Linked DNA regions of Homo sapiens: region 2 is linked to region 1. A link means that fine-mapping ties the variant in region 1 to the expression of a gene that starts in the linked region. Tissue or cell type: testis. Region 1 holds a variant in brackets; the other region holds the start of a gene. All regions are shown on one strand. Distances are between the middles of the regions.

Region 1 (2,764 bases):
CTTTGAAGAAGGATGTAATGCGTAAAGAAGTGGTATAATTCTTCAAGGGCTGAGTTGATAAGCCACAGAGCCTATCCTAGACTTGTATTCAGAAACTCTGACCCTACACTTCAATTGCTGATAGTGATAACTTGCTTGATAATACACACTGTGTTGCCTTCATTCTCTGTCCTGTCTCAATTTCTGCTCCCCTCCTGCTAGTATTGTCTGGGATCACATCCCAAATAAAGCACTTGCACTAAAATTCTTACTCAGAATCTGCTTCTGGGGAATTCAAACTAAGACACTCATCTTCATGAATTTTTTCTATCTAGCTTCTTAATTTCTGTTCTGATCCAAAAAACAACTCCCAAAGAGTGGTTTCCATGTGACATTTTTAAGGTCCCTTCCGTGTTCCTAAAAGATCAGCCTATGCATGGTCAGTTCTTTTGGCAGGATTGCTAATTTCTGTGGCAATTATCTCTATCTCATGGTTTTATCTGGATTAATTTCTTAAAGAACTCTGGCCTAGAAAGGTTTAGTATTTTACTTGAACTTCCTATGTGGAATATTTTTGTATAACAGCAAAGTCCTCTCATACCTTAACCTTAAATGCTCCAAGAGAAAGTTCTACCCTGTTAGAATAAAGGTCATGCCTTCCTCAATTATAGCTAATCTCAAAGCGTGAGAGTTTAACTAATGGTCAAATCCATATTAAGTTTAATTACACATAGTTATGAGTATATAACATTCAACCCATGCCCCAATGATTTATGTAATACAAATGTGATGGGATATTGCTGCTTAAATCCAAGCAGGAGAAGAGGTTCAGAAATCACAAGGACAACCTTTGTACAAAAGCCATTGCTAAGCATTAGTCAGGCAGTTAAGATTAACATGGGATAGCACAACCCTCCATTAGTTACTCATCAGCAAACACAGAAAAACGAGAGCTCGATTATAGCTCTTTGGTGTATTTTTAAAAATGAGAAAATGGAAAAGCACAGAGGCTGAGCAAGGACCCAGGGGCATGCAACCAGCTAAGTTGCTGAGCTGTCAGACACTAAGTCCTCCCTGTCTTAATCCATTGTACCAATGGGCATCATAGCAAATGAGGAGACACAGATACTAATTCAGGAATTTCAAATTTTAGCATCCATCAAAATCATAGTGGGTTTGTTAAAACACAGATTGAT[G/A]TTCCCTGTTGCCTAGAATTTCTGATTCAGTAGGGCTGGCATGAAGACCCTGAGGATCTGCATTTGTGACAAGTTCCCAGGTGATGCTGATGTTGGTAGCCCAAGGCTCACATTTTGGGAATGATTGCACTAATGGAATATATTTTTTCTAAGATGGATCTCAGATGGTACTCATGCAAGGAGCCTGGACTCACTGGCAGACACAGGGGCATCTTATTGCTAGAATCACAGGGCTTAACATTCAGGCCTGCGCAGAGACCGTCAGAGGTGAAATGCCAAGTAATTAGGTCTCAAAACTAGGCTGACTAGAGAAATCGGATTTGCAAAGATCAGAAAGGGCCACAGGTGGCAAACATGACTCAAGGTCGGAAATGCTAAGTTCAGAAAGTACCAAGGCTCAGAACCTCAGCTCTTGCTCTTGCAACCAGTTTAATTCCTATGTGACCCCTGACAACTGAGAGGGAAGAAGGATTGTTGTCCTAGGTAAATGCTGAACTACTAGGAATAAAGGCAAAAAGTTAAATCATTAGGCTCATTTTTTGTTCTTTTTGTCCTCAAAAACCTACCTCTAAATGCTCCTTCTAATGGATACTTCTTGTGAATGCTTGGATATAACCCCATCCAGAAATGCCTTGGATATGCTTTTGTCCTTATTAGTTTCAGTTTTCCCTTGAAGTTTTGTGGTTAAAATGGACTGAAGTGAACCTAGGCTCTTTCCTCACTAGCTGTGGGACCGATGAATTGTGTAACTTCTTGGAGCCTCAGTTTCCTTACCAGGAAAAGAGGGTTAAAATAATTTGTTTCTCATACAACTTCTTCAAGAATTAAGTGAGTCATACTAGCACTTGCCAGATGTAGTAACAGCTCAGTAGACCTCAATTATGTCGTTATTCTTATCATTATTACCATGTGTTAGCATCTTTCCTCTGATGACTGCCACACTCCTGGCAATGGTTATAGTCTATGTAAGATTTCACTTTTGGAAAACCAATGATATTTGAATAATGATTACTTATGAGAATGGAAAAATGTCTTTTACTCTAGAAATTAGGAAACTCAAAGAAGAAATAAAGCCTTAGGGATGTGTTCATGTGTGTGTGTGTGTATGTGTGAGTTAAAAGTAGATAGAAATACCTGGAACAGAAGAAAAGACGTAAGTCAAAAATATGTGGTGAAATCTATAATAACATTGTGCCGATGTTAATTTCTTAGTTTTTTTCTATGTGTACTATGGTTATGTAAGATTTAAACATTAGAGGAAGCTGGGTACAGGATGTACAATAACTCTCTGTGCTATTTCTGTAACTCTTCTATAGATGTAAATGAACTGAAAATAATTTTTTAAAATATCAAATTAACTAGAAAAGAGCTAATTAAGAAGGTTGTGACATAGTTTTTAATAACTTTCCATAGAATAAATATTCTTTAAAAGCAGGTTTTATGTTGTTGTTTATTTTTTTGTTTGTTTCTTTCTTTCCCCAGGAACGGCTAAAATGCATCCAGACACAAGTTGTGACACAGAAGTGCTATGTGCTCCCCAAAACCATTTCCTCTTTCCTCTGGACTCAACCTTAGACTACATTTCCCAG
Region 2 (2,609 bases), 560 kb after region 1:
AATATTATTTAATGGAAAAAATGTATTTGATATAAACTTACAGAAGTATGTCCATTCCAGATTAGCAATTATCTCTCCAAGACTACTCATGAAAGGGGCAAATTGGAGCCAGTATTAAAGGTATGATGATTTGTTTCCTTCAACTAATAAGACCCCAGGGCCTCCCACAGGACTCCTTGCAGCCTTCTCCCTCAAACCTTTCAAAACACAGAGTATAATATTAGGCACACCTGAAAGGAACAAAAAAAAACTGAGCCAAAGCAAGATAAAGGGAATATGTATACAAATATCTCAGCAGTTTCCAGGTTGACCCCATCCAACAAGTTTCCACTTGTTCTTTTGACCCTGGGAATCTACTTATAATAATTTTTACTTGAAAGGTGGGAGTTACATTTGAAGCAATATGAGAAAATTCTCAAAGCAGCAAAAATAAAATTGTTCTTTGCCTTGGCCGGCCATAATTACTTCATTGCTATGACATATGACATCATAGTTAGTCCTCAGGCTCGGGGGTGTTTCTAATGAGCTGGAGTTGGAAGGGTCCCAGTGGAATGCAGTGAACCAAAAGACCCACTGTTCTTCCAAATTCCAACATGATATCAGGAGGGAAAACAAAGGGCTCTTCAAGATTCAGAGGTCAACCTGTTCAGCATCGCATCAAAAGGTGGCAATAAGGCAAAAGGAGGTTTCAGGGCATAGGAAAAGGCCACTGTCACCTATTTCTACATCTAATTCAACAACAATGATACTGAATATGAATATTTTCAGTAATTTATGAGACCAAATTTGAGTATTTTGAAAATATTCTGTTAACTTGATATGTTATCACATTGGATCCTTGCCACAGGACTGTGTCCAAGGGAAAATTATTGGTTGCCAGTGCATACATACTATTTTAAATAAATGACTTTGTAATGAAAAATTTAAAACTATACATAGGGAAATAATGAAAACAGTGACAAATATGTTTATCCAGCACATGAGCGAGGTCCTTTTCTGCTCCCTTAGCACAAAGGACCCTCAGAGGTGCAGCCACCTTCCCGGGGGCCCATATGAGCCATTCACCATATACTCCCTTCTGGGAATATGTCTAATGATTTAGCCAATTTATCAGCAAGACAGCCCAGTGGCTAATGCCAGCATCAACTCACCAGAGGTCACAGAAGCTAACAGAAGCCTCTTCCATAGGGCAAAAGTCTTTGAAATGGACATGAGTATCTCTTTCCTAGTCCTGTCACTGGCCCCCAGTGCCCAGCTGGTTTAGGGTACTTAGACAAACTTCTTGCCTTAGAAATCTCCAAACAAAAATGACCAATAGTATTCAGTTTTTTAAAAGACTCACACATTTCAGGACAGACTGATTCAACACATACCCTGCTACAAGAAGGTTGGAGCAAAGAGGAGATATATACTTCCTCTGGACTTCTCAGACATGCTATAAATGTTTTTTGGCAAATCCCAAGATGAGATCACAATTATGGTGGAAGAGTTTAGTACAATTACCTAAAAAATTTTTTTAAAAAGTAGAAAAATATAACTAGAAATATAAAAGATTTGAATAAATAACAGCTTTGACATAATATATCTGAATAAAGACTTTTATAGCCAACAAACATAGACTATATATCATTTTATTGTTATATAGTGAAAAATTTTCAAACACATGAAAGTATAGAGCACAGGATAGTGAAATTTCAATGTGCCCATTAGGTGGCTTCAACAATTATTAATATCATGTAATCCTAATTTTCTTCATTTCTCACCAGTTACTTCTATCCTCCTCATGTTTCTCTCCCTCGTCCTCTTTTTTTCTTATGGAGTAATAGAATATATATTTTTTAAACGCTTGTGGTCGAATGGTTGCAAAACATGGCTCCAATTCTTCACACACCTACACATATCCTTGCTCTTTTCCATGTCACTTTTCAGTGCTGTCTCAACATGAGCAGCATAACCTTCCAACCCCCTGACTCTGAGCACAGATATGCAACTTATTTTAACCCAAACAATATTAGCAGGAGTATCAGAGAACTGAAAATGTGCTTCTGCCTTTTTTTGGTCTCTGCAATCCCATGAGGAAATTCCTAATCTACCTGACTAGAAGTTGAATGTCCTTGTTATCCTAGCTGAGGCCAGCCTAGATCAGCCAAGAGCCACTCAGCTCCCAGACCATCAGACGATCCTAGCCAAAAGCAGCAGAAATTTCCAACCAACCATCCCTGGACTGTGAGTAGTAAGTGCTTATTGTTGCATGCAGCTGATAATTTGTGGTCGTTTCATAGCATTACATAATGGTAGATACATGACACAGAACCTAAGAATTATATGTACTATTTATTTTTTGTCAAAACATAAAAGGAAGCACACAAAAACACCACCCCCCCATACATACACAAAAATATTGGGTAGAAGATAGATAGATAATATTTTAATTACTCAAAAAAAAATCACATAACAAAGTAGATGTTAATATTAAAACAGAAAGTAAGTGAAAGAAGAGAGAACAAAGTAAGAGGTGGTAGTCCTGCCTTTTGAGCTTTGTGCTGGACAGAGTTGCTGGTAGCCTAAATTCAACTCCTGCAGGAACATGTGGCCTTTCACAACCAGAG

What was found. PIP is the estimated chance that this variant, and not a neighbour inherited with it, causes the effect.
Region 2: LINC02871 starts here. The variant in region 1 is fine-mapped to the expression of LINC02871 in testis (GTEx, PIP 0.98).

Annotation. Positions count from the first base shown.
Region 1 is chr20:11,581,496-11,584,259 of GRCh38, reverse strand. No RefSeq gene overlaps it. Among named protein-coding and RNA genes, the nearest start is that of LINC00687, 290 kb to the left of the region's middle. The variant G/A (reference allele first, on the strand shown) is at 1,176.
Region 2 is chr20:11,025,339-11,027,947 of GRCh38, reverse strand. LINC02871 (long intergenic non-protein coding RNA 2871) reads right to left here and starts at 1,404. Exons shown (of 4, transcript NR_146878.1): 1 at 1,374-1,404; 2 at 42-197.